Linked DNA regions of Homo sapiens: regions 2, 3 and 4 are each linked to region 1. The links come from fine-mapping of genetic effects on gene expression. A gene starts in region 1. Each other region holds a variant in brackets. All regions are shown on one strand. Distances are between the middles of the regions. Region 1 holds the start of RASGEF1A (RasGEF domain family member 1A). Region 2 overlaps RET (ret proto-oncogene). Region 3 overlaps RASGEF1A (RasGEF domain family member 1A). Region 4 overlaps RASGEF1A (RasGEF domain family member 1A).

Region 1 (7,763 bases):
CAAGGAAGGCTGGGAGCCTCCTGGCAGGAGGGAGACCCAGCAGAAGCCATGCCCTGAGTAGGGGAACAGACTGCTGGGTAAGGAGGCCACTGCAAATGTCCTGGCCAGGGGATGGTGGCCCGGCCCACAGAGGTGGCAGTGAGCAGGGAGAGGCAGAAGGGGCAGAAGAGAGGTCTAGAGTGGGGTGTGCTAGACTGGCTGACAACTCCAGGCAAAGGGAAGCTGGCAGAGGGGGTGAGGGAGAGCCAGCTGCCTACCTGCTCAGATGGGGAACCTGGGGCAGGCAAGGTTCAGGGGCGTGATGATGTGCATCGTCACCCGGGAGGCGTCCAGCAGGCTCACACACTGACAGAACCCAGAGGACAGGTGGGGGCTGATGAGAGCTGGAACCGGATCAGCACGGAGGAGGGAACAGATGCTGTGGCTGGGTAGAGGGTTTGAGCCCAGGTCTTGAGGAACAGGGACTTTGAGTGTCCCAGGATGGGAGGAGGAGAACCAGGGGCCGGCCAAGCCCAGGAAATGGGTGTCTGGGAACAAGGCAGTGGACATCCACGGCCTCTCAAGAAGACATCCCTGGACTGAAGGAGGTGTGTGCAGATTGGCGTGGGTGGGAGTGAGTGGGAAGTGAGGATTCAGAGTGAGCAGAGAACATGTCTTCAAAGTCAGCCCGCACAGGCGACCAGGGTGCGGACGGCTGAGCAAGTTTCGTTGTTTTTAAAAAAGGAAAAGCACCTGTCAACCGGACAGCCACATCTTTGCATCCCACGTATGAAGTGCCCACCCTGGGCTGTTCTGTCTAGAGTCCCAGCCCAGGCCTCTCTTCTTCAAGCTGGTGCTGGCCTCTGCTCCCTGAATTCACAAAGAACCCCACAGCCAGCTCACAAGAGACAAGCAGGTCTCGGAGCCCCTGCTGGCTGCCCTGGGCAGCACAGGCCGGCAGCTCAGCCCCTACCCCAGCCCGGGCAGTGCCCAGGGCAGGGCGGGCAACCACAGGTGGGGAGAAGCTTCCCAGAACAGGATCACTGGGTGTCGTCCTGAGTTGTGCCCAAAGGCACCCATGTGCTTCCTGGGAGGTGCTGCAGCAGAGCCGGGACAACCGGACTACTCTCCCTGCCTGGCTTCCCTCTCCATGGTCCACCGGGCAGGGGTGGCCACAGCAGCAGTCACACCCCCACCCCGTCCATCACAGCACAGGCCCCGCTTGAGTCCTCACACCTGTCCACTCCTGGCCGGTCACCCCTCACAGCCCTCTGTCATGGTGCCTGGAGCAGCCTCTACCAGCCTGTCCCAGGTGGTGAGCCCTGAGGCCAGAGCCCCTCTCCCACTCTGAGCAGGCCAGGACCCCGAGGGGCTTTCGGGCTTCCCTTCACACAGTGCCCGCCAAGCCACTGCTGGCCATACCAGCTGACCTTCCCAAACCCTGCTCCCGGGCTGCTAGCTGGGGAATTCCTGGTGTCCCAGCGCGCAGGGACATTCTGCATGGGTTCCTGGCAGCTCGCCACTCTGGGCCGGCCCAGAGCCCACTCTCACATACCCACAGCCCCAGGCTCTGTGCCCAAAAAGTGGCGACAGGGATACACCCAAAAAGTGGGCAGTGAGCCCTCTCTGGACCCCCGCAGGTCAGGCTGACAGCCATAGGGGAGGGCCTCTGACACCCCCAGCAATCCACCAGTGGGTATCAGAGGCCCTCCTCTATGGCTGTCAGCCCACCAGTGCCACTTCAGTCCCCTCCCTCCGCACATCACACCCTTGCTAGGTAAACACTCATCCTCCCCAGCAGGGAGTGGGCAGGGGAGGGCAGAGGAGCCGGGAGGCAGGCTGGAGTGGGTGGGAGTTACAGGAGGCAGATTGGAAGCTCCAACAGAAAAGCAGCCAGAGTGCCGGACCCAAGCAGATGGCCTCAGGAGAAAAAGGGGGAAGGGGAGGGAGGGTCCGTCAAGGGGCAGCAGGGAGGGGTGGGGGAGAATGCCTTGAGTCTCCTCCCCATCTGCTATCTGCTATGCCCCTGGCACCTACCCCCAGCAGCCCAGCGCCCCTCCCCTGGGGTGGGCCATGCAGAGAAGAGCATCCCTCCACCAGCCCCTCTCCTGAGGACAGTGGGGGGGCCAAACCCCCTGCCCCCATCCCTGCCTTGGCACAGCACCTTCACTTGACCTATTTGACAAATAGGGCTTCTGTGAAACCCACGGTTCTATTGCCAAAAACCAAAGGCCAACCAAAGCTGTCCCATCCTGCCCCTGGCATCATTCTACAGGTGGGGACCGGCGTGCTCAGGGGCTCCTGGCCACACTGTGTCCCAGTGCCCACTCGCTCTCCTCCCTGGCTGGCCCCTCCCACCGCTGGGGGCCACTGTGTGCGTGGCTCTCCCCACCGCAGCCACTGTCCAGCACAAATGCCATTTCTCCCTCCTCCTCCTCCTCCCCTGCCTGCAGTTGCTAAGTTACACCAAAAAACCCCTCTGCTCTGTGTGAACTGTTCCATTTCCACGATTTGCCAGGTGGAAGGGAGCCATCCGGCTGGCAGCTCGAAGATGCCTCCCAGAGAAAAACAAACTCACTGGCTGGCCTTCAGGCCAAGGCACACCTGGGATACCTGCTTGGTTCACAAACCCAGGGGCATGTGCAGGAGGACACAGCTTCTCTACTTCACTAGAGAGCCTGGGGGATCCACACAGCTCATGCCCTTCTCAGGAGCAGGGAGTGTGGGCCTGCTGCACCCGCCTCGCTGGGTCACTACCACCCACAGCCCTAAGGACACACACTGGCTGGAGGGGCAGAGAACCCACCCACGTGTCCCTGGCCATCCAGCCAAGGTCCTCCATGTCCCCCTGCTCCGGATCTCCCCTTCCTGGGCTGGGGTCCTGAGGTTCCAAAGCAAAGTGTCACTGGACATCAGGGTGGAAATGTCCTCAGAGGTCATCAAAACCGTGTCAGTCTACAGATGGGGAAACTGAGTCTCAGAAGCCTGCAGCCTGCCCGTGGTTCACGAATCAAGACCTGTAGCCTTTCGGCTGGAGGCCCCCTAGAGCCGCTTAGAGTCCAGGGCACCGAGGTGGACAGGCTGGGCTGGCAAGACTGCATCCGGAGGGGGCGGGAGAACCCTGGGGGGACAGAGGGAACCAAGGCCTCTGGGAGGCTCCCCTGCACCCAGCCTGACTCCTGTGTTTCAGGATCCTGCGGCCGACGGCCATCGGGGCCCTTCCTGCGCAGGACAGTGGGAGAAGAGTGGCAGTGGTGGGGAGGGTGAACCAGGGAGAAGCTCACTGCTCTGAGCAGGGAGGGAGGGAGCCCCGGCCACCACCAGGTCTCTGCCCCCAGGTGGCTCCCAAGAGGCAGGCAGCGGCCTCTCTGTAAATATCCACCAGGTCCAGCACCCAGAGGCAGCCAGAAATGCAGGGCACAGGAACCTGCCAGCGCGTCCCTCCACACACAGCAGGGGACTCCCGCCCCCACCTCTCACTCACCGACCCTCGGACCAGAACCAGCTGCACCTGCCCCGTTCCTGGGGCCGGCAAGGCCTGGGGCAAAGAGAGCGTGGTCCTTCAAATGACCCTTGCCCAGCAGGGAGAGGGAGACACCTGGCATGGCCCTGGACCTCTCCCCCAAATGCAGAGCTCAAGCCCCAATTCCTCGCCAAACAGCAAGGGCGTGAGATACCACGGCGGGGCCCAGAATGCAGAAGAGCAAATGGAAACTTCCAACTGCGCAGCCCTGAGCTCCTCCGATTCCCCAGCCCCCACCCCCACGCCAGGCCCCGGGCAGCGAACCTGCCCGCAGTGCCCACGCCCGCCCGCCGCGTGCGCTCCTGCCACGCCCGGCCCGGCCCGGCCCGGCCCGCCAGGTGCCCTGAAGGGGCGGAGGGTGCAGGGGGTCCTGGCGCCGTCCAGCCCGGGGCGGAGTTCTCAGCAACTCCGCGCGCCGGGATCCCGGCCGCCCTCCCCGCGCGCGTCCCCCGCCCCGCGCCCGGAGCCCGCGCCCCGGCCCCACGACGGCCGCGCCGGGAGGGACCCCGGGCCCGCGCACGCCGCGCCCTGCCCGCGCCGGCGACCGGAGGGCACGGCCCCAGGCGCGGGCGGGGGCCCCGAGGCACTGAGGGTCCGCGGCCGCTGCCTACCTCGGTCCGGGCCAGCGTCGCTCCCGCGCCGCCCTCGCGCCGCAGTCGGGCCCCGAGCAGCGCGCGGCCGGCGCCGGCGGCGGCTCATGCTCGGCGCCCGGGCCCGCGGCACCCGCCCACCCGCGGCCGCCCCCGCGCTGCGCCAGCTGCGGGCAGAGCAGCTCCCTCCGCAGCCGGCGCCGGGGAGCGCGAGCGAGCGAGCGAACGAGCGAGCGCGGAGCGAGCGCCGAGCGGGCACGGAGCGGGCGCGAGAGCGCGGGGAGCGGGGGAGCGGGCGGGCGCGGGACGCGGAGGGAGGAGGGTGCGGGGCAAAGGTGCAGGGGGAGGTAGGGCGCGGGACGGGGCTCGAGCAGAGGGCACTGGGACAGGGCGGGCGCCGGGAGAGGGCGGCCAGGCTTTCATTTAAAAAGGATAAGGCATCACGCCTGTAATCCCAGCACTTTGGGAGGCCGAGACGGGCGGATCACGAGGTCAGGAGATCGAGACCATCCCGGCTAACACGGTGAAACCCCATCTCTACTAAAAATACAAAAAAAAAAATTAGCCGGGCGTGGTGGCGGGCGCCTGTAGTCCCAGCTACTCGGGAGGCTGAGGGAGGAGAATGGTGTAAACTCGGGAGGTGGAGCTTGCAGTGAGCCGAGATCGCGCCACTGCACTCCAGCCTGGGTAACAGAGTGAGACTCCGTCTCAAAAAAAAAAAAAAAAAAAAAAAAAAAAGGATCAGGCAGCAGACAAGCTAGGAGGCGATGCGGCCACCGCATTTAAAAGGCCCTCTGGGGACTCCCGCAGAGCTGGCAAAATTTTTGTCAGTGGAATCAGACGGTGAAAGCCCTTCTGTGGGCAAGTCCTGGCCCCTTGGGTCACTCCCCTTAACCATCTTAATCGCCCTGTAAGGTCGGTGGTGGATTTGTTCCCATTGGACAGGTTAGTAAACTGATGCACAGGGAGTGCGGTTACCCTGCAGGGTCTCAGAGCCTATAAGTGGCAGAGCAAGGCTCCAAAGCCACCTTGAAAGATTTCAGAACCACTAAAGCAGGACACAGGTCTTCTGGCGTCCACTGGAACTTCCTGTCGCTCTGAAGGGTCACCTTCTCTTGAACGGACACCCTGTGGCCTGACCCCAGGGTGGCCCAGAGTGACTCTTGCAGGCAGTCAGACGAGGGCCAGTGAGAAACAGGTCTGGGGCGACGATGTCCCCAGGTGGAGGGGTCTGTGTGAAAAAATGGGGAGGAGCCCCACAGCACCCCTTGAAGAGGCTGAGGACCTTGCTTACTCACTTAGTCCTTGTGTCTTGAACACCTGTATGCCAGGTGTAAGATGGGGCACTGGGATTCGGCTGTGAATGTCTCTGTCTGGTTGGAGTTTGCATTCTTGTGGGAAGTAGGCAGTGAATAAAAATACACATAAATAGTTCATGTGTCAGATGCTGCAGATCCCACAGAGAGGCCCAGCAGGGAGAGGGAGCCAGCGAAGGGAGGGGGAGGGGAGCTTGTAGGGTGGGGGATTCTTTTTTATTTTTTAAGGGGAGGTGTCACTGTGTGGCCCAGGCTGGAGTGCAGTGGCTATTCACAGGTGCAATCACTATGCTCTACAGCCTGGAACTTCCTGACTCTAGTGAGCCTCCTGCCTCAGCCTCCTGAGTAGCTAGAACTGTAGTTTCTCACCACCACCCTTCCCTGCTGGGTTGGGGATTTTATTTTGGGTGATCAGGGAAATCTTGGCTGAAAGGATCATATCTGAGCTAAGACCTAACTGAGGCAAGCTATGCTGAATCCGAGGAATGAACATTTTCAGCAAAGAGAACAGTACATGCAAAGGCCCTGAGGTGGAGGATGCCTTAGAAGGAGGCCAAGTGGAGATGAGTGAGTGTGGTAGAGAGGAGCCTGCAGGAGCTGCCAGGTGGACCATATCGCGAAGAGCCTGGCCAGCCATCAGCCCTCTGTGGCTTTGACTCAGAGGGAGGTGGAGGGTTTTGCACAAAGTAATATGATCTTACTATTTTTTACAAACAATATTTTATTATGTAAGATTTTAAACGCTTATAATAGTAACGGCTAAAAAGGTATATACAATAAACTCAATGGCCCAACTTCAACAATTATCAATACATGGCCAATTCTGTTTCATCTGTATGCCCACCTACCACTCCCCATATTATTTATTTGTTTACTCATTTTAAGTAAACTTTTATAGCTTTTTTTTTTTTTTGAGACAGGGTCTCATTCTGTCCCCCAGGCTAGAGTGCAGTGGCACAATCATAGCTCATTGTAGCCTCGAACTCCTGGGCTCAAGCAATCCTCCCGCCTCAGCCTCCCAAGGATAATTTTTTGTAAGTATAACATGCATAGACAAAAATCATAAAGTTGTGCTCCATGAATTTTCAATAAGAATACACCCATTCAGTGAGAATATTAATAGCTCTCTGCACCTGGATTTTCACTGTAGAAAGGTTTTTAATGACAGGTTCATTTTCTTTAATATATAGGACCATGTAGATTATTTGCTTCTTCCTATGTAACTTTTGCAAATTGTGTTTTTTATGGATTTTGCCCATTTTCTCTAAATTTTCAGATTTTCTGACATCCTCATATTGTTGTTTATAACATCTTTTATATTATCCCGCAGATGTTTGTAGAATCTGTAGCTATGTCCCACTTGGATTCTGATATTGGGGACCTCTGTGTTTTTCACTCTCTTTTTTTGATCAGTCTTGTTAGGGTTTTGTCAGTTTTATAATTTTTTTTAAAGAAACAACTTTTGACTTTGTTCAGCTTTCTCTGTTGTACTTTCTATTTCATGAATCTCTGCTCTTAGTTTCATTGTGTTTGTAGCTCTCCTTTGGGGGAGTATTAACTGTCTTTCTCTCATTCCTTCCTTCTTCCTTTTTAGTTTCTGAAGTTGGAGGGTAGGTTCATTGGTTTTCAGCTTTCGTTCCTACTCTATGGACTTAAAGCTATATATCTGCTTGTTAAGCACTGCTTTACTCTCTCTCTCACAATTGGTGTTTTTTTCTCACTATCATTTTGCTCAAGAGACTTTTAAATTTCCATTTTGACTTCTCTTTTGGCCCATGACTTATTTGGAAGGACATTGCTTAGTTCCAAATATTAGGGGATTTTCTAGCTACCCTCCTGCTGCTGAGTTCCAATTTAATCACACATCAGGCAGAGATTTTCTGAAATCTGTTGATACATTCTTTATGGCCCAAAATATGTTCTGTTTTGATAAATGCCCCATATGCCCTTGAAAAAGAGTGAATATTCTGTATATTTCAGTTAAGTCAGGTTGGTTAATCAAAGCCAAATCTTCTATATTGTTAATTAATTGGATCTCATATTCTATCAGTTCCTGAGAGAGGTGTCTGAAAATCTCCAGTATGGTCCCAAACTGGAAACAACCCAAAAGTGGCTGACTGGATAAACTAACTGTGTGTGGTGTATCCATACAATGGACAACTACTCAGCAGTAAAAAGGAGCAAGCCATTATTCAATACAACAACTTGAATAACTCTCAGATGCGTTAAGTGAAATAAGTCAGACTTCAAATGATCCATTGGACTTTTTTTTTTTTTTTTTTTGAGACAGAGTCTTGCACTGTCTCCCAGGCTGGAGGACAGTGGTGCAATCTTAGCTCACTGCAACCTCCACCT
Region 2 (7,763 bases), 140 kb before region 1:
GCAAGGACGGTGCAGGACAGACGTGTGATTGCCAAAGGTTCTTGTTTGTCTGTCTCCACACCTAAAAGCCCTCAATCAATTCATTCTTCTTGAGAGTTTTAAGGACTGGCACTTCTCACTTAGCTGCCAGAGCAAGCATAGTATCCAGTGAGCTGTTTACCAGTGTCTTTGCAAGGGAAGTAAAAATGAATCTCCCTTGGAGGGAAGGGAAGCTTGTAGGATTCTGGACCACAGCTCTGAGAGACCTGAGCACAGTGGCCCACGGGCTGGGATCCTGCAACAGGCCATGCCCCAGTCCCACGAGGCTCAGAGATGTCAGCGATGCAGAAATAGCTTTGGAGTTGGAGACAGAGCACACTGGGCCCAGGGTACAGGGCAGGGTGCGATGGCTGTGGTGGGCTGTCCTTCTGAGACCTGGCCCTGCTTGGATCATATTGGCCTGTCTGCTCTTCCCACCAGGTACCGCCTGATGCTGCAATGCTGGAAGCAGGAGCCGGACAAAAGGCCGGTGTTTGCGGACATCAGCAAAGACCTGGAGAAGATGATGGTTAAGAGGAGAGTGAGTGCCTGGGTCCAATTCCCACAAGCTGAAAGTGGCTTGGGGAGACTCCAGCCTCACCCCAGGGCAGTAGTTTTAGCCCTCAGAGTTCCCAGTGTGGGGCCACAGTGGGATTGTGCAGAGAGAGAGAGTCATGCTCTCCCCTGCATGCAGACAGCAGATTGAACCCTTCTCAGGCCAGGCCGCTTGGGCTTCTTTTCAAGTCATGAAGAAACCAAGATTCTTGACATTTAGGAAAAGCTCTCTACAGACAGGCATGGGAGGAAAATATTCCAAAGCCAAAAAGAAATAGTTTTCCATAATGGAAAATGAGAAAGTTGAGTTAAAGCAAGTGCCCAAAATTCAGATGCCCAGAGGGGGGTCCGGCTGGAGGAGGGCAGTGAGTAAGGAGCAGTGGAGACTGTGGCAAACAGCCAGCCCCCTCCAAAGGGTTCCTTGCTGGAGTACCTGTGGCCTGCAGAAAAAGGAGCCAGGAATGGGCTGGGTCTTCTGAATTTTATGAGGTTTATGTTGTCTCCCAGTTTTTATTGTTAACAATTCATTTAAATTTCCCAGAGCCGAACGCAGGCCAAACAAAGCATATCGGGGGGTGGCCAGAGTCAGCCTGTGTGCCTGGAAGTACAGTTTGTGAGGTCTACACATTTTCAACCAATATTCATCAGGCAGCTGCTAGGACCCATACTATGTCTCAGAGGCTGGGAATGCAGATAAACAAGACCAGCACAGCCCTGCCCTCACGGGGTTTACACACAGGCCTTGTCTTAACATTGGCACATTTACTGAGTTGTCACTTCTTCCGACTTGGATAGCGGGATGCAGGACCTAGGACCCCATAGGAAAACTTCACATCACTGTCTCGCTTGGATGAAAACTTCAAGTCCTGAGAATGCAGCGTTGTTCAAAACAGAAGCGATCACTGGTGCTGGCCTTCCTAGAACAGTGCTGAGAAACAGCCGGGAAAACGCTGGGCCCCTCTGTGCACATTCAAGCTGGGCATTGAAAGGAGCAGACGCCAGTGGCCCCTCGTGCTGGGGAGCCCGTGCCTGTAGCAGGGTCCTGTGCACCCTGACAGCGCTGTCAGATTTCAGAACTCAGCCCTGACGTGACGTTCTAGATGGCAGGGGTCCTTGGGGAAAGCTGGAAAACATCCTGCAGGCTGGGGCTGCGTCCTGGCATGTGGCTGCAGTGGGCTCCCCCAGAGCCCAAGGGTTTGTCAGCGGGCTGGTTCCGTGCTGCCCATCTCCGGGTTGGGCCAGGGGCAGCTAGATGAGGCGTCCCCCAAGGCTGCCCTCCAGGCCCTGGAGATAAGACGCTGAGGGAGCACATTTCTTTCCCCAGGGAGGTGACTTTCCAGGGGAAGAGACAGAATAGACAACACCCAGGGGAGTGATGGGGACCTCAGAGCAGGACCAGGCCAGCCAGGAGTCCTGGGAGCTCTATGCAGCCTGGCCCTGGTCTCTTGGAGAGGTCAGGAGATTGGTGCGAGGTGGAGACACAGCCAGAGCCTCTGCCCTGAGGATGGCTTGTTGTATACTGAGTTGTATCTAGTTGTGGCACATGGCTTGGAGTGACCGGCCATCTCTGTCTTCCAGGACTACTTGGACCTTGCGGCGTCCACTCCATCTGACTCCCTGATTTATGACGACGGCCTCTCAGAGGAGGAGACACCGCTGGTGGACTGTAATAATGCCCCCCTCCCTCGAGCCCTCCCTTCCACATGGATTGAAAACAAACTCTATGGTAGAATTTCCCATGCATTTACTAGATTCTAGCACCGCTGTCCCCTTTGCACTATCCTTCCTCTCTGTGATGCTTTTTAAAAATGTTTCTGGTCTGAACAAAACCAAAGTCTGCTCTGAACCTTTTTATTTGTAAATGTCTGACTTTGCATCCAGTTTACATTTAGGCATTATTGCAACTATGTTTTTCTAAAAGGATGTGAAAATAAGTGTAATTACCACATTGCCCAGCAACTTAGGATGGTAGAGGAAAAAACAGATCAGGGCGGAACTCTCAGGGGAGACCAAGAACAGGTTGAATAAGGCGCTTCTGGGGTGGGAATCAAGTCATAGTACTTCTACTTTAACTAAGTGGATAAATATACAAATCTGGGGAGGTATTCAGTTGAGAAAGGAGCCACCAGCACCACTCAGCCTGCACTGGGAGCACAGCCAGGTTCCCCCAGACCCCTCCTGGGCAGGCAGGTGCCTCTCAGAGGCCACCCGGCACTGGCGAGCAGCCACTGGCCAAGCCTCAGCCCCAGTCCCAGCCACATGTCCTCCATCAGGGGTAGCGAGGTTGCAGGAGCTGGCTGGCCCTGGGAGGACGCACCCCCACTGCTGTTTTCACATCCTTTCCCTTACCCACCTTCAGGACGGTTGTCACTTATGAAGTCAGTGCTAAAGCTGGAGCAGTTGCTTTTTGAAAGAACATGGTCTGTGGTGCTGTGGTCTTACAATGGACAGTAAATATGGTTCTTGCCAAAACTCCTTCTTTTGTCTTTGATTAAATACTAGAAATTTTTTCTGTTTCCTAACTTCATCATTGATTGTTTGAAATCTTGGAGTTTCAAGCATTTTTTTCAAGCTGAGACGGTTCCTTTTGCATGCCTCCTGACTCACTGACTCCTCACTGGCTTTGTGTCTAGTGCCACACTCCATTTGTGCTGACGATGCTATGAGGCTGGCCCGTGTGCACCCTCGATTTGGAAGGTCCTCTTCTCCGTTGTAGGCTCAGACAACAGACGAGTGCCTCCTTTACGTTAGAGAATGTTTTAT[A/G]GAACGTTTCCGCTGCAGTAAGCCATTGAGTGCAGCAGTGTGCTGTTGCCCTACACTGCCTTAGAAAAAGAGTTAAGCAGTTCGACAAATATACATCAGATTAGAGAGTCTCAAGTTCATAAAAGTCAAAATTGGTAGTGTCTGTTAAGTTACATTTACCAAGAGAGCACATGATATTTCCCCTAACTATAACAGTGTTTTTGGAAACCTGGAACACAAAACCATTAATATAATTGGCACAGAAACCACGAGTTTGGTTTGAACATCAAAGGGAGTTTTGCCAAGGCCTTACTGTCTGCACTTGAAGTTTTGGTTCTTCAGTGCAGAACAAATGATCTGTTTTCATTTTTAGGCATGTCAGACCCGAACTGGCCTGGAGAGAGTCCTGTACCACTCACGAGAGCTGATGGCACTAACACTGGGTTTCCAAGATATCCAAATGATAGTGTATATGCTAACTGGATGCTTTCACCCTCAGCGGCAAAATTAATGGACACGTTTGATAGTTAACATTTCTTTGTGAAAGGTAATGGACTCACAAGGGGAAGAAACATGCTGAGAATGGAAAGTCTACCGGCCCTTTCTTTGTGAACGTCACATTGGCCGAGCCGTGTTCAGTTCCCAGGTGGCAGACTCGTTTTTGGTAGTTTGTTTTAACTTCCAAGGTGGTTTTACTTCTGATAGCCGGTGATTTTCCCTCCTAGCAGACATGCCACACCGGGTAAGAGCTCTGAGTCTTAGTGGTTAAGCATTCCTTTCTCTTCAGTGCCCAGCAGCACCCAGTGTTGGTCTGTGTCCATCAGTGACCACCAACATTCTGTGTTCACATGTGTGGGTCCAACACTTACTACCTGGTGTATGAAATTGGACCTGAACTGTTGGATTTTTCTAGTTGCCGCCAAACAAGGCAAAAAAATTTAAACATGAAGCACACACACAAAAAAGGCAGTAGGAAAAATGCTGGCCCTGATGACCTGTCCTTATTCAGAATGAGAGACTGCGGGGGGGGCCTGGGGGTAGTGTCAATGCCCCTCCAGGGCTGGAGGGGAAGAGGGGCCCCGAGGATGGGCCTGGGCTCAGCATTCGAGATCTTGAGAATGATTTTTTTTAAATCATGCAACCTTTCCTTAGGAAGACATTTGGTTTTCATCATGATTAAGATGATTCCTAGATTTAGCACAATGGAGAGATTCCATGCCATCTTTACTATGTGGATGGTGGTATCAGGGAAGAGGGCTCACAAGACACATTTGTCCCCCGGGCCCACCACATCATCCTCACGTGTTCGGTACTGAGCAGCCACTACCCCTGATGAGAACAGTATGAAGAAAGGGGGCTGTTGGAGTCCCAGAATTGCTGACAGCAGAGGCTTTGCTGCTGTGAATCCCACCTGCCACCAGCCTGCAGCACACCCCACAGCCAAGTAGAGGCGAAAGCAGTGGCTCATCCTACCTGTTAGGAGCAGGTAGGGCTTGTACTCACTTTAATTTGAATCTTATCAACTTACTCATAAAGGGACAGGCTAGCTAGCTGTGTTAGAAGTAGCAATGACAATGACCAAGGACTGCTACACCTCTGATTACAATTCTGATGTGAAAAAGATGGTGTTTGGCTCTTATAGAGCCTGTGTGAAAGGCCCATGGATCAGCTCTTCCTGTGTTTGTAATTTAATGCTGCTACAAGATGTTTCTGTTTCTTAGATTCTGACCATGACTCATAAGCTTCTTGTCATTCTTCATTGCTTGTTTGTGGTCACAGATGCACAACACTCCTCCAGTCTTGTGGGGGCAGCTTTTGGGAAGTCTCAGCAGCTCTTCTGGCTGTGTTGTCAGCACTGTAACTTCGCAGAAAAGAGTCGGATTACCAAAACACTGCCTGCTCTTCAGACTTAAAGCACTGATAGGACTTAAAATAGTCTCATTCAAATACTGTATTTTATATAGGCATTTCACAAAAACAGCAAAATTGTGGCATTTTGTGAGGCCAAGGCTTGGATGCGTGTGTAATAGAGCCTTGTGGTGTGTGCGCACACACCCAGAGGGAGAGTTTGAAAAATGCTTATTGGACACGTAACCTGGCTCTAATTTGGGCTGTTTTTCAGATACACTGTGATAAGTTCTTTTACAAATATCTATAGACATGGTAAACTTTTGGTTTTCAGATATGCTTAATGATAGTCTTACTAAATGCAGAAATAAGAATAAACTTTCTCAAATTATTAAAAATGCCTACACAGTAAGTGTGAATTGCTGCAACAGGTTTGTTCTCAGGAGGGTAAGAACTCCAGGTCTAAACAGCTGACCCAGTGATGGGGAATTTATCCTTGACCAATTTATCCTTGACCAATAACCTAATTGTCTATTCCTGAGTTATAAAAGTCCCCATCCTTATTAGCTCTACTGGAATTTTCATACACGTAAATGCAGAAGTTACTAAGTATTAAGTATTACTGAGTATTAAGTAGTAATCTGTCAGTTATTAAAATTTGTAAAATCTATTTATGAAAGGTCATTAAACCAGATCATGTTCCTTTTTTTGTAATCAAGGTGACTAAGAAAATCAGTTGTGTAAATAAAATCATGTATCATAAAATGTGTAAACTTTTTTTCTTTTTAACATTCTAGTTGGAAACAACAGATTTCTGATTTTGTAGTTTCCATACAATATTTAAAACATCACAAAGAATTCTATCATGATAACCACTGAGGCATCAATAGTGGTCGAGGACTAGGGGCTCTGGAGATATCGCTGGCTTATCTGGTACATTTGCGTGTGAATAGGCACATTGATAGAAACTGAAAAACTCAGCTAACTCCACTGTTCAAGGAATCCCTTCCTTAAAAGTGTCCATCCCTAGAACAAAGCAGCAGCCAGTGTCAAGTTTAGGTCTTCACAGTTCTCTAGCAATTTGCTTGTTGCTGATCTTTTGAAGTTGGCCTTAGAGCTGTGGGAGACAGAATACAAAATGCCAAGTCCTGAGGAAGGCCATTAGAAGTGTGAGGGAAAATGCTGTCCTGAACCACCATGAAGCCTGACATACTCACTACTTCTGTTTATGTCTTCCCCGAGGAATTCTCTGAGCTTCTCATGCCGGGCGTGGAGCTGATGGGTCAGTGGGCAAACGGGAGTTGTTGTCAACATCAGTCTCATCTGCGATTGCATTGTGTCAGATGCCAACGGCCTGTGTCACACACATACACGTGTGTATACGTGGGCCTTTGCACGCCTCGCCAGGTGGTGTACATGCAGGCCTTGGCACGCCTCGCCCAGTGCCCGCCCCAGGCCCATGAGGCCCCGCTTCCCAGCCGTGGGTGTCTGTGTCTGCTCACGGCTTCCTCCTTCAGCCTGGACCACGGGCTGGAAGTGAACGTAATCTCCAGAGCCAGCTGTTTGCTGTAGCCTTTACCTCTGAAAGTAGAAATCTACGCCAAGAAAAGTTAATGCTAAAAGCCACCCCTAATGTAGACTCTACATTAGGACTATTTGTGTGTGTATGTTTGCTGTTTTATTTTCCCCTAAAAACACATTTTCTGCCAACCTTCACGAAGGATTTCTTCCCACCACGAGGCCAGCTTATGTGGGCAGAAATCTAGTTGAATGTGCCTGAGAACAGGGCTTGAACAAATACTTCATACACAAAAGAAATTTTGAAGGGAAAGCATAATTTCTAACATATAAAGAAAGCCTCTCCCGCAGGCAGGTGGAGCAGTTAGCGGTGCCTCTCTCTGCCTCGGGTGCGTTCACGCATAGTGTCTGGCACACCTTGTTTTATTGCTCTTTGCTTTATTGCGTTTTTCACAAATTGAAGTTTTGTGGCAACGCTGAGTCGTCGAGAAAGTCTATCAGGGCCATTCTTCCAACAGCCCACACTCACTTCATGTCTCTCTATCAGTACTGTTAAGCAGTAAAGAATCTTTAAACCAAGGTATGTACATTGTTTTTTAGACATAGTTCTGTCACACACTTAACAGACTCCAGTACAGTGTAAAGTGTAACTTTTATATGCACTGGGAAACCAAGAGACTTGTGTGGCTCACTTATTTGGGATCTTCAATCTTCTTTGCTTTACCGGAGTGGTCTGGAACAGTATCTCTGAGGTTCGCCTGTGTTTAGTGGTCCTCACAACTGGGGGGTGGTTCTAGGAAGTCCTAGGGAATCCTAACCTCTGTGGCCCTGAAAAAGCAGAAAGGTGGGTCTTCAGGGTGCATGCAGCAGTGTGCGTGGCCCCACACGTCTTCCACATGAAGATGCTCCAGGTGCAAGTCCTAGGCTTGTGCGCCTGCAGGGAAAGCACCCTCTCTGCCAGGGCTCCTGCTGTGGCCCTGTCCCTTCTCCATGGCAGCAGCCTTGACCGAAACTGTGTAGAGTCTCCCACCTCTTCAGGGAGCTGGGACTCAGGAAGGATCATCTTAGCTGAGGTCATAAGA
Region 3 (7,763 bases), 41 kb before region 1:
GGAAACTGGTGGAGCTGGGATTGGAACCCTGTCTGATGTGCTACCCAGGGCAACCAGCACAGGGCTCCGGAGAAGGAGAATGGTGTGAGGTGACAGCAGGGGGAGCCAGCCAGGCCTGTGGGATGGACAGGGCCTGACCCAGGAGGAGCTGCCCCTGCTGCATTTGCAGGTTAGGCTGCAAGCGCAGGGCAGCGAGGTGGGGTGGGGGAAATCAGGCCAGGGTCCAAGGGGCCCGTGCTGCATTCTAGCCCCTGCAAAACTGCCCACAAGCCTCACCACCAATGAGTGGCGTAGGCAGAGGGCCTCCCACCTGCTGGGCCCTGTGACACCATCTGGGGGCCTCTGAGGCCCTGCTCTCCACTTCCCAGATGAGATACAGGTGTGGGGCTGAGGACAGGGCACAGCTGGAAGCCGCCCAGGCCTCCTGCCTGCAAGTTGGCCCTTCCTGTCCGTGTGGCCCGGGCACATACAGTCATGCGTCCATTCGCGACGGGGATACCTCCTGAGAAATGCATCTTAGGCGATTTCGTCGTTGTGCAAACCCCAGAGTGACTTACACAGACCAGGATGGCACAGCCCACTACACACCCAGGCTCCGTGGTACAGCCTATTGCTCCCGGGATCCCAACCTGCACAGTGTGTGACTGCACTGAATATACTGGAGGCAACTGTAACACAACGGTAAGGATTTCTACAGCTAAACATAGAAAAAGCACAGTGACAATATCATATTATGAATCTCAGGGGACCACTATGTGGTGCATGACGCTGTCTTTTTTCCCAGCACACCCTCCTAACACTCTCAGAATCTCCAAAGTGGTAAGTGTCTTCTGTGTGCTGATGGACTTCTGGACAGCCTGGCTGGGGGCTGGTTGTCAGGGGAACCAACCATGTGATGAAAGGGTGGGGACTTTCACTCCCACCCCCAGCTCTAGGGACAAGAGAGAGGCTGAAGGTTGGGTCCATCACCAATGGCCAATGATTCAGTCAGTCACACCCACATAATGAAGCCTCCACAAAATCCCAAAAGGAGCGGCTTCAGAGCTTCTGCGTAGGCAAGCAGGTGGAGGGCCCTGGAGTGCAGTGCCTGGGAGGACAGGGAAGCTCCACGCCCCTTCTCACATGCCTTGCCCTGAGCATCCCTTCCTCTTACTGTTCATCTGTGACCACTGTAAAAACCTGCATAGTAAGTGGGTAAATGGAAGCAAGTGCTTCCCTGAATTATGTGAGCTGCTCTAGCAAATTAATTGAATCTGAGAAAGGAGTCCCAGGAGTGGTGATTTGCTGGGTGGGTCAGAAGCACAGGCCACAACCTGAGACTTGCAAATGGCATCTGAAGTCGAGGGAGGGGGACAGCCTTGTGGGACCAAGCTCTCAACCTGTGAGATCTGACTTCGCCTCCAATATTGTCCAAATTGAATTACAGGGCACCCAGCTGCTGTCTTAATGTTAGAGAATCTGGTATTAGAATGTTGTGCTAAATGGCTGAGAGTGGAGAGTAAGAAAAACACTTTATTGGTTTTTTTTTTATAACCCTATTAGAGGTAAACTCCCAAGAACACAAAGCTATGCCCAGGAAACACAGTGAGCACCTCTTCATGCTAGATTCACAACCAGAAATTGCCCAGCAAGTGGTAGATGCCCAAGGGATGAAAATATTGCAGTGCATGCTCTCTGGACAGGGGACCAAGATATGTGAAAAACTGTGTCTAGAAACAGAAAGGCACATTCTACTGTCCAGAGTCTCTGCCACATGGTCGTATGTTATACCACCAATGAAACCCAGTAAAGTCCCCAAATAGAAGTGTGCAGGTGAGAGAATGACATAAGCACAATGTACTATAGTTGGATATTAATATATAACTGATAAACAAAATACCCACTTCATAAAAAAAATCCCTAAATCACACCTGTGTTAAAGATTCAAATTCCAATTACAGATGTCAGAAAAATAACCTTTATAGGAAAACTCTGTATCGAATTTGATATGGCCAAAGCTGTACTCACAGAAAAGTTCATAGACTTCAATAATGTATTGAAGTAAACACTAAGCACTTGATTCAAAAAGCTTAAAAAAGAGCTTCTCAACAAAACAGTGAAACAAACTGGAAGAAGAAACTACTAAAAAGCAAATTAGATGACTTAATCAAAGAATAGAGTAGAACTCCTTATAAACTTCAAGAGCTGATTCTTTGAAAACACAGATTTCAAGGATAACCCTCTTGCAATTCTAATCAACAAAAGGAAAGAAGAAAGGGAGGGAGGGCCAGGCACCCTGGATCATGCCTGTAATCCCAGCACTTTGGGGGGCTCTAGTGAGAACCTGTCTCTATTTCTTTAAAAAAATTATAAAAATTTATTTTAAAAAAGAAAGGGAGGGAGAGAAGAAGGAAGAAAGGAAGGACATGAAAAATACATTGGGCATGAAAAAAGGGAATCTAACTCCAGATATGTAGAAGAAAGTTTAAAACAAACAACTACCTAAATCTGTGGTAAATGATCTGCAAGAACTTTTAATGGTTACTTATATTATCTAGAAAATATAAGTAACCAAAAATAGAGTAAAACTGTTTAGAACCCAAAAAGACCAATAACCATAGTACAAATTAAGTTGAGAGCCAACTAAGCCTCTGGAAAAAATAAAAGAAAGCCCTGGCTGAAATAGTTTCTAAAATGAATTATTTCAAGCCTTTGAGGATAAGATAATTTTATATGATATATAAACTATTTCAACTACACAATTCATATTGAAAAGCCTTCCTATTCATTTTATAAAGCTAAAATAGCATGATTTATAAATGTGACAAATATGTCTCCTAGTAGAAAAGTATGCATAAATTCTTACCTCTGAAAATAGTGAAAAATACCCTCAGCAACATAGCAACACATCAGTAAAATGAACTCAGCAGCATTTTTAAGCACAATAGAGCCTGACCCAGTGGGCTTTATTCCAGGAACAAGAGGATGATTTAGCTCAGAAGAGTTAATAAGTCAACACATTAATAGGTCCAAGGAGGAAAGGCATTTGATGATTTTGCTAGATATAGGAAAGCCTTTGATGAAACTGAATATCCATTCCTGGTGTGCACTCTTGGCAATTAATGTAGGATTCCAGCACACTGTCCTTGATGACGAATACCTATTGGAAATATGGGCCAGTTTCAGACTTAGTAAAACATGAAAAGCCTCCTCATTAAAATGAAGATCAAGCCAAAGACAACTGCTATTATTTAATGTTACTTTGCACCTTTTAGAAAACATAATAAGATAAGAAAACTAAAGATACATTAGAAATAAAGAAGTTGGCTGTTCCTTATGTGTAAGTAATATAATTAATTTCTTGGATTTTCCAGGAAGCCAAACTAAAAATCTGTTCAAACTAGTAAGGTATCAATAATCAATTACCTAACATAAACTTTTAAAAAATCAATAGCTTACTTATCTACCTCCCCTGGGCATATGTGTCTGCCCATAAGTCTGTGTGGAGCTGTTACAGAGATGCTCACACCAGTGGCAGTAGGGGAGGTGTGTCTGTGTGTCTCTGTATGTGTCTGTGTGTCTCTGCATATGTCTGTGTGTCTGTGTTTCTCTGTGTTAGTGTGTCTCTGTTTCTGCGTGTGTGTGCCTGCATGTGTCTATGTGTGTCTGTGTCTCTGTATGTGTCTGTGTGTGTGTCTTTGTGTCTCTGTGTCTGTGTGTGTCTCTGTGTCTGTGTGTGTGCATGTGCCTGCATGTGTCTGTGTGTGTGTGCATGTCTGTGTGTGGGGGTCTGTGGGGGGGGGGTCTCTGTGTCTGTGTGTTTCTGTGTGTCTGTGTCTTTGTGTGTGTCTGTGTGTCTGTGTCTCTGTGTCTGTGTCTCTGCATGTGTCTGTGTGTCTCTCTACGTCTGTGTCTCTGCATGTGTCTGTGTCTGTGTGTGTGCCTGCATGTGTCTCTGTGTCTGTGTCTCTGTATGTGTCTGTGTTTGTGTGTCTCTGTGTCTGTGTGCCTGCGTGTCTCTGTGTCTGTGTCTCTGCATGTCTCTGTGTGTCTGTGTGTCTCTGTGTCTGTGTGCACCTATGTGTGTCTCTGTGTGTGGGTGTCTGTGTATGGGTGTGTGTGTGTGTGTGTGTGTGTGTCCACGGATCTCTCAGCTCTCTAAGCTCCACTACCATCCCCCAGGAACACGATGTCCACAGTGGGCCTGCTCTGCCAACCAGCTCAGCTACCCTGAAGCCACTTTTCCTGGTCACCCACCCAAAACACCACACCACTGCCCCCTCAGGCTGGGCACTCTAGGAACATGCCAGTCCCTGTTTTAAGGACATCTGTTGTATGTGGCCCCAGGGAGGTCCCCAGAGAAGTCATACTCAGGTTGGGGCCAGAGTTGAAGGCTGAGCCTCCTCACCCACGGGGAGGGGGAGAGAGAGGAGGGCGGCGCTCTGACGCATACTTACCGGCCCAAGGCTGGGCAGGGGTGGCTGGCGGCAGTCACAGTGACATTTGGGAAATGCCAGGGGCTGGGTCCCAGCCCGGAAGGCGGGTGTGGGCGGTGACAGGGGTGGGGGC[T/G]GGGTTATTCCCCGAGGCTGAGACCACAAGACACCAGCTTTGCCAACAAAACTCCACTTGGCCAGTGGTGCCAGGGGCCGCAGGGCCAGGGCCCAGCCAGCAGCAGGGGCCAGAAGAAGAAACAGAGGGCCAGGTTCAGTGGCTAATGCCTGTAATCCCAGCACTTTGGGAAGCCAAAGCGGGCAGATCATCTGAGGTCAGGAGTTCGAAACCAGCCTGACCAACATAGAGAAACCCCGTCTCTACTAAAAATACAAAATTAGCCAGGCATGGTGGCACATGCCTGTAATCCCAGCTACTCAGGAGGCTGAGGCAGGAGAATTGCTTGAACCCCAGAGGTGGAGGTTGCAGTGAGATCATGCCATTGCACTCCAGTCTGGGCAACAGGAGCAAAACTCTGTCTCAAAAAAAGAAAAGAAAAGAAAAAAAGAAACAGAGAAGCTGAGGGGATCTTGGCTGCCATCCTCCTCCGAGATCCACGCCATCCATGGGCTCCCACCTGACTGTCCCCGGGTTCCCTCAGGAGCCCCCACGCCTCGTGTCCCATCTGCCTCTGAACTCCCATTGTCCTGGAACCCACAGGGACCCAGGCAGCCCAGAACCCACACAGTGGAGCCCTCATGACCCAGGAACCAGCTCTGACCCCTGACCTCCTGGCTGACCTCAGGCAAGACACAGCCCCTCTGGACCTCAATTTCCCCAGATGTAAAACAAGAAGTAGAGAGCCTGTACAGGCCACTTCCCGCCCTCATCTTTGTTCCTTCCTTTCTTCCTTCCTCCTTCCTTCCAGAACTTGTTCAGTCAAGTCAGCATCCCTTGAGGCCTTTGTGGCCTATGCCACACACTCAGAACGGAACAGCCCATGGACCTTAGTGTCTGTGGGAAGACAGACACAACTCCATGGCATGGCATGATCTCTTCAGGATTGGGGGTCTGTGCCGGGTGTCGTGGAGGCACGGAGGTGGGGAACTAACTCTGTAGGGAGTAGTCAGGGAGGGCTTCATGAAGGAGGTGATTCTGAGATCAGCTTCCAAGGATAACCAGGGGTTTTCCAGTGGGTTAAGGGGGAAAAGGGAGGTTGACATGACAGTTTGGTCTCCTTCCTCTGGTCACTCACCAGCAGTTCCCTGGAGGGCGAGGTCCAAGAGCCCAAAGGTGTGGGAGATGCAGGCAGCTTCCCCTGCACTAAGTCAATCCTCATGCATCCCACCAATGCCAGTGTGAGACTCTCTCCCCCAGGCAGCCCTTCCTGACTGCCTGCCCCCCCGACAGATGGCACTGCTGCAGCCCATGTGTCTGTGAGTATGTGACCCTGGGTTGTGCTGTCCCCAGTGCCCCCTGCATCCTGGCCAGGCCTGGACCCCCAATGCACAGAGGTGGTGGGCTAACATGAGAGGCCATGGCTCTGCTCTCCTTCCCCTGGCCTGTGCCCCGCTGAGGGCTAGAGTCCTCATCCCACCTCTCCTGGGGAAGCTGAAAGAAGGTGGCTCAAGCTAGCAGGCCCAGCAAGATGGGCTTTGGGCCTGGGAAGGCTGGGGCCCAGGGCTGTACTGTCCTGAGCCAGCAGGTGCAGGTGTGGGTAGGGTGGCCAGGAGGCAGGGCAGCAAGGAGCCTGCAGGGTGGAGCAAGCCAGGCTCTGCATGAGCACATGCAGCCTAGACCTCTCCCTGGACTCTAGACTGCCCACACCACTGCCAGGCAACACCTCTGGGGTGGGAAGTGTTGAACTGTCCCTGCTCCCACCTGCTGTGCCTGCCATCTTGCCCACCTCTAAGGGCAACACCCTCCTTCCTGCGCCAGCCTGACCTTCCCCATCTCAATGAAAACAGCCTACCCACCAGCACGGCCTCCAGGTGTTGCCTTCAGAATACCCCCAGAATCAGTCCTTCCCTCCTCCTCCTTCTCTGCCATCTCCCAAGGCTGGGATTCTCATCTGTCCCCGGACCACTGGGGTGGCACTCTGCTAGCTTCACCCCTCCCAGCAGCAGCCAGCAATGCCATGGCAGCCCCACGGGGAGCACATCCTGCTCCACCACCTCCCACTGCAGCCCCGTCACCCCCACTGGCTCCCCCAGCCACGCCACCTCGCTGGCCTCACTGTCCCACCTCCTCTTGGGCTCTGCTCCTGATGCCCCAGTCTCCAATCTGGCCCCAACATGCAGGCAGCTTCCACTTCAAAGCTCTGCCCTGGCCTTTTCCTGGTATGCCCCCCGCATAGCTCCCTCCCTCCCCTCCTTCAGCAGGTCCTGTGCACACGTCTCCTCTGGCCACCATACCTAAGGCACAGACAGCCCCCTCCTTCACTGGTGGTCAGCACGCTGGGCACCAAGTGTGTCAGACCCCTGGTTGCTGGGGGAGCAGGACTGTCATTGGAGGTCCGAATGAAACGGGGTGGGGCCGTGGGGTCCACCTGTCTCACAGCAGTGACTGGAGTACTGGGCTGGGGCATTTAAATGCCAGTGCAGGGCCCTCCCCACTCCCCTACTATGTGACCCCGTCAGCCTGGGTCCCTGAATGAGGGTGGCCTGGACCAGGGCTGACACCAGTGAGTGGAAACTGCACCATGTTGTGAGCTGAGGGACTTGGGGGCTGCTCTATCGCTGCAGAATGACCTGAACTACCCTCACCGATGAACTCCTCACAGGCCCTGCTAGCTCTCCTACATTGCTTCTTCTCTAGCCCTCAGCACCAGGTAGCACTCCACCCATTTTACCTACACATTGTGCTTGTTCCTCTGCTGTGTGGGCACCGTGAGGACAACACTCTCCGTGCTGTGGTGTTTGGTTCCCTGCTGAACCGCAGTGCCTGCACACAGCAGGGGCCCGATAAATGCATGCTGAGTAAGTGAAAGAAGGAAGGGACAGATGAGTCCTGCATCTTTCACGTGGCCAGGGCTGGCCGGGGCTCAGCTCCACGCTGTGGGCACTCAGAACCCAGGGGGCTGCCGCACCCGAATCACACCGCCTTACGCCTCTGGGGATGGGTCTCCATAAACAGCGTGGGAAATGCCAGTGCTCCATGCTCAGGTCCTCTCCAGGACCAGTTCTCCGCCTGCACCCTACAGCGCCCTCGCCCTGGAGCGCACACTCCTCGAAGCCCCACGGTGGGCTCCACTCTCCCTAAACGCACAGGCGCGCGTGGGGCTCACAAGGCACAGGCACGGCTGCGCTCCCTCCCATGTGCCGTGAATAAGCGCGCCCGCGCTTCCGCAGCCC
Region 4 (5,691 bases), 67 kb before region 1:
TGCAGTGTCTGCCTGAACCCAGCTGTCCCTTCAGGAGTACAGCCCAGCACAAGGGGACAGTGACCTCTGGCTGGGCTGAACACAGTTCTCTGCTGTGCGGGGCTCTCAGGCTGCCTGTTGGGGACTCTAGGAAGGTTCCTCGTGTTGCAGCACCTGACCTAAGCCCATGTGACCCTCTCCAGTGGCTGCTGGAAACTGAGTCTCTTGTCCTTCTCTTCCATCCATCCCATGACCCACCCTCATGCACACTCGCCCCTGCGAGCAGAGCCAGCCCTGTGTGGCATGGAGCAGCCAGCAGGCCATCTCCCAGGGCAACCCCAAAGAGCACCGGGCCTGGACAAGGAGTCAGGTGGGGTGGGAGGCATGCTGCGTTGGGAGGCAGCCCTCACCTTCCTCGCTGTAGATGGGCGCCGTGAGCAGGTAACTCTGAATCTTCTTGTCCTTCTCGAAAGGACACTCTACCTGTGTCCATGTCATGAACTCATGGATCTGTCTGGAGATCTCCCAGAATTTCTGAAGGGAGCAAAACCAACTGATGTTCATCTGTCACCTTAAGCACCAAACCCTCGGTCAGGGCAGGGGACGTAGGTTTTGGCCTCAGCCTCCTGCTCACTTCACTGGTCCCAGCAAGATGGGACAGTGGCCCTGCACGCTGACCCCGTGGCCATGGTGGCACGCCATGCAGCCTCAGAGCCAGCAGGTGTCCCCCAAGGCCACTCTGTCTGGCCCTCCACCTGGGCCATCAGGCCGGCAGCAGGGTCTCTGCCTGTCTGTGCAGGGACCCAAAGAAGGCCCCACTGATAACTCCAGCCTGAGGCAGGCACCCCATCCAAACCCAGCCCAGCGGCGCCAACCAGAACGTGTCATGATGTCCCTTCTCTGGGACCTTCGGAAGGATCCCAGCTCCTGCCCACACCTCACCTGTGTGAGGTAGGCATCCGGCAGCCCACAGCCACCTACACCTGCCCTGCCACCTATGTCCCACCCTCCCATCCTCACCAGGTGCCCTCAGGCCCACGAGGCAGGCTCTTCACTTCCATCTAGAATTCTCTGCCGCCTCCTCCCTGCTCAAGTCCCTTCCTATCTAAACCCCTCCTGACCTCCAATCCCACAGGGGTGGACAGGGCTCTCTCCCTGGTAGGGCCAGGCTGGAACCACGGTCCTGGATAAATACAATTCCCTGTGACTCCAAGCTCTGCAACTAGGCCATCCACCCAGAAGTACCGGCAGGCGCACCTCATACCTTGCAGTCAAACAGCACCCCGTGACCCACTATGAGGCTTTCAGTCTTGAAGGCCCTTGTGAACCTCAGGCAGGGCTCAGGAAACCCACAGATCCCGACCCAGGGCTAATGCCTGGCGGCTCCAGTAGCTCAGACAGTTTCCGCCTGGCCTGCCCTGTGCTGGGATGAGCTCACCTTAAAGTTAATGTGCCCGTTGGGCAGGTGGTTGGTATGGATTTTGTGCAGGAAGTAGATGTCCTTAACGAAGAGGTTGAACACAGGGATGACGATCTTTTCACGGCTGCTGTTGGCCATCTGGGACCTCTGCGTGGCCCCCTGCAGGGCTGTACGGTAGTTGCAGAAGTTGCTGGACGGGTCCATGTGATGCTGTGGGCACAGGGAGGACCTGGTGAGCATCACAGCCCCATGCCCCTCCGACCTGCTCCAGATGCCCCTCTGCAGAGCAGGAGGCAGCAGACAGAGAAGGCACCTGGCCCCTGGGCAGCCTGGGAGTTAGCACGGGGGAGGGGACGCCCAAGGGTGCCTGGCTGAGCCCTGGGGCCAGGGCTTCTGAGTTCAGGTCCTGGCATCCTCTGGAAAGCCACAGAAGTGTCACTGCCCTGCCTGCCAGGCCTGACCCTCGCCCTCCTTCCTTCAAGACTTCCCTTTGCTCCTCTACTTAGATCAACACCTCCCAGACCTGACCAGCTCCACAAGACACATGCTTTGCAAAAATGGACTCTGTGGTCAAACACATCTGAGGAAGGCTGCAGGTGACCCTGTCTGCCAGCCTCTGGGCCATCTAGACCAGCCAGGACCTGGAGACACTGACCAAGGAAAAGGCAGTGTCTTCCAACACAACCCCACTCTTGTCAAACTCTTGCTTAACCGCATTCCACTCTGGAACTCGCCTTAGGTGATGCCGGGTCTGCCTGAAGTAACCGAGGACAACTTAAGTCCCCACTGCTGGAGGACGAACATGCCAGGCCAGCTCAGCCAGCACTGTAGGTGCTAGCCCCAGGGAGAGGAGGGCAGCCCCCCACCCCCACTGTCAGGGCCCCCTTCGGGCCATTGCGGGACGAAATGGGTGCAGCTCGCAGCTGTGACGGGGCTCAGGTGCCTACCTCCAAGACATCAAACTTGGCTGTCTTGACCTTGGACCAAGTTTTCTTCAGCCTTGCCACAGGACTGAGGTTCATGCCAGCTGCAGAGGACAGCAGGTAGGGTCAGGGCCGGGGGGGTGGGCCATGCAGCAGCCCCACCCTGGGTGCCCAGTCACTCACAGATGATGGCCATCATGGAGTTGAAGTTCCCGATGTTGAAGCACTCCCGGGCCACATCAATGAAGAACTCCAACATGCGGGTCCGGTGTTTCTTCTTCACCACCTGGAAGGTGGCAGGTGACCTCAGCATGGCGCTGCCGGGGGACAGCAGGAGCTGGGGCCGCCGGGCAGAGGAACAGAGGGGCAGGGAGGACCTCGGGACTTAGCTTCTGGCCACAGCGGGCTGATCCAGGTCCATGGCTGCGTCTGGGAGGTCCAG[A/T]CATGTGCACGGCCTATGCTCAGGCTCCTCAGTCATCAAAGGGAAGGCACCATCTGCCCCAGAGGGCTGTGAGGGCTGGCAAAGCCTCACACAGGCAAGAAAAATGGTGCTGGGCACAAGGGGAGCACTCCACGGATGGGGTGTCTGTTGTCATTGAAGGAATCGCTGTATGTCGGGGTTGGGGGACCACCAAGGCCCTGACAATGCAACAGGGACTTTGTGCATTCACTCTTAAAGTTCCATCATCTAATTCCTGGGGCAAGATCAGGGTCTCACTGGGTGTGGGCATGGCAGCCACCCCACCATGTCTGCCATGGGCACTTACCCGGCACACCTCAGTGGCCACCAGCATGCTCAGGCAGTTGAACCAGTTGTCATAGGCCTCCAGGCTGTAGGTCTTGGTCAGGTCCCCTCGGCACTGGAAAGGACACAGCAGGTCATAGGGGGCCTGGAGGACCATGGCTGGACAACTTAGTCCCCACAGCTGGCCCTGGTCCCCAGCTATGGCTCAGCCTGCACCGCAGCAGCCTCAATCATGCCTGCGTGCTCCTTGCTGCCCAGTGCAGGGCTGGCAGGCCAGGCTGGCTCCCTGGCCCAAATCTGTGACCTCTCCCAGCATTCATCATCCATGACCAGCACAGCCATCTTGGAGCAGGTGCTGCCTCTTGAAGCAGGTGCTAGGAGGTCCAGTGCCACATCCATCGGGGCTCATGGCCCAGCACTCCGGAGACGCTCGGGGCGTGCTGAGTGAGGCCCACACCCACCCTGCATGGAGCGCAAGTGCTGGGCAGACAGGGCTGGCAGGGGTGCCACAGGCCTTGGCCCACTTACCCTGTGGTTGTCCAAGGAGTCCATGTGGCTGACGATCTGCATCAAGTCCTCAGGGTAAATGCTGCTGACCCTGTCCTGGGGTGGAAGATAGCAAAGGGAAGGTGACAAGCTTCCCCTGGAGAAGGGACAGCACTGCATAGGCATGCGGACAGGGAGAGGAGGAGCTGCCCAGGGCACAGGACCTTCACCTCCTCCCAGGCCAGTCCTCCATCCTAGGGCCACTGCAGTCCCCACTGCAGGACGACACTGCTCCAGCTCCTCCCACTGACACAGCACTGCTGTGTTCCTGAGGACGTGAGTGCCAGGCACAGAGGTGCCCGCCACTCAGACGGACACACATCTGGCATGAAGTGTGGCAGTCAGGGCTGGCAAGCGCACTTCCCTGATGGCTCAGTGTGACTAGCAGGGGCCTGAAGTGCTGTGCTGAAAGAGGCACTGTGGTCCCACAGCCCCCACCCCCAGTCAGGGCATAAGGCAGCACTGACCAGCTCAATGTGAGTCAGCTGCTGGGCCAGCACCAGGGGGTCGCAGCACACGCCCAGGATGTCCTTCTGGGCGGCTGGTGGCTTGGTCTTGAGGATGGGCCCCTTGTCTACAGCCGGTGGCCGGAGCTTCTCTCGCAGTTCCTGGAGCTGGCTCCGGGCAGCCAAGGACAGCAACAGGCTCTGTGTCATCTGGGCAATGGCCTTCTTCACTGTGCCATTCTCCTGTGGGGTCAAGGGCAATAAGGGTGCCAGCATGGGCTGGCAGCAAGGCCACCACCACTGTGGGTAGGATCCATCTCACCTCCAGGGATGTGCCTAACCAACGTGAGCCCACAGCCCCTATCTAAACCGCAGCCTTCAGGCCTTCAAGGACAAAGTGGGGCACAGCATGGGCTCCTCTGAGGACTGCTGAGGAGGGGTCTCAGTGGGCTGTCCTGCTGCAGGACGAGGCTAAGGGCAGAGACAGGCTCAAGACTGAGCTTCTGGGTCTGAAAAGCATGGCTTTTTCAGAGGCGGCCCACTGAGCTGCTTCCTGAAGCAGGAGCAGCCCATAGAACAGTTTAAGGCATGGGAAAGGCTTCTGCCAAAGCCAGGAGTCTCTGCCCCCTAGTTGGGAGCAGCCTGGGGTCCCTGGCTCCTCCTGGAGTACTCGGGGTGAACAGGAGCTGCTAAGCACAGGGAATGCTTCCACTGTGGAGGCCCAGTTGGCCCAGGCATCTCCAGTTCTCTCTCCACCAAAGGCAAAGGTGAAGACATTTGAAAAATGGGAGACCGGTTTAAAGCCTTACCCCCACCTCCTCTCACTAATCCAAGACAGGCAGAGCCTTACAAACTCTCAATAGGCTCCCACTCCAGGGACAAGGACAGCAAGGGCCAGGAGAGGGTTGAGACAATGATTGCCAGGCCCGCAACCGGGCTGCAAGGTCCCTGCTTGCAGTATCATGGGTGACCCTGGCCCACTGCTGGCCAGCTGAGCTGTCATCTGGGGGAAGGGAGGTTGAATGGGGCCAGCCAGCAACCCTCCTGGGGGAGTAACATGGAAGGGGACCACATACAGAGTTGTCCCCGAAGCCCCCACCCTCCCGAGGGCAGACCCTGGCACACACCCAAAGACCCTGGCCAGAGCCCAGGGAGCACTCACCTCATCACACTGGGTGACACGGTGTGTGATGGCTTTCAGCTCGGCCATGGCCTTCTCATCCTGGAAGTCATAGGGGAAGGCCTCGGTCCACTCCTTCAGGAGCTGCACGATCTTGGCTGAGAAAGACTTCAGCTTGGCCTGGGGCAGCAGGGGATACAGAGTAAGGCCCCACAGGGCAGAGTAGGGTACTAGATGGCAAATGGTGCAAGCTTCCCACATCCCCAAGCCACACCCCAGGCCCTGTGCTGGGCACAGCCCCCAACTGCGTGCCACCTGCGGTTTGGCCAAACCTGAACCGCCACATGACTCCTGTTTGGTTCCTTCTTCCTTCCCCTTAAGTTGACTTTCTTTTTCACTTAAATAAACTTATATTAAAAAAACCCACCCCATCTCTAAGGTGACAAAAAACTAATTCCATTTGCTATAATTAGAAGTTACCCATAAAAGCAATACAGTAAAATAACCCAAGC

Evidence for each region.
Region 2: its variant is fine-mapped to the expression of RASGEF1A in whole blood (TOPMed, PIP 0.97).
Region 3: its variant is fine-mapped to the expression of RASGEF1A in stomach (GTEx, PIP above 0.99).
Region 4: its variant is fine-mapped to the expression of RASGEF1A in whole blood (TOPMed, PIP 0.92).

Annotation. Positions count from the first base shown.
Region 1 is chr10:43,262,732-43,270,494 of GRCh38, forward strand. It overlaps RASGEF1A (RasGEF domain family member 1A), which reads right to left and starts at 4,334. Exons shown (of 13, transcript NM_145313.4): 1 at 4,114-4,334. RefSeq lists an enhancer at 2,964-3,839.
Region 2 is chr10:43,124,424-43,132,186 of GRCh38, forward strand. It overlaps RET (ret proto-oncogene), which reads left to right. Exons shown (of 20, transcript NM_020975.6): 18 at 460-559; 19 at 2,152-2,299; 20 at 3,689-5,928. The coding sequence ends at 3,846. Among named protein-coding and RNA genes, the nearest start is that of CSGALNACT2-DT, 10 kb to the right of the region's middle. RefSeq lists enhancers at 5,911-6,511, 6,512-7,112. The variant A/G (reference allele first, on the strand shown) is at 3,337.
Region 3 is chr10:43,221,485-43,229,247 of GRCh38, forward strand. The region is part of intron 1 of RASGEF1A (RasGEF domain family member 1A); the gene reads right to left. Among named protein-coding and RNA genes, the nearest start is that of RASGEF1A, 42 kb to the right of the region's middle. RefSeq lists an enhancer at 6,556-7,366. The variant T/G (reference allele first, on the strand shown) is at 4,549.
Region 4 is chr10:43,196,587-43,202,277 of GRCh38, forward strand. It overlaps RASGEF1A (RasGEF domain family member 1A), which reads right to left. Exons shown (of 13, transcript NM_145313.4): 4 at 5,222-5,359; 5 at 4,081-4,302; 6 at 3,596-3,670; 7 at 3,090-3,182; 8 at 2,506-2,608; 9 at 2,347-2,426; 10 at 1,418-1,609; 11 at 390-513. Among named protein-coding and RNA genes, the nearest start is that of CSGALNACT2, 61 kb to the left of the region's middle. RefSeq lists an enhancer at 4,861-5,362 and a silencer at 5,626-5,691. The variant A/T (reference allele first, on the strand shown) is at 2,765.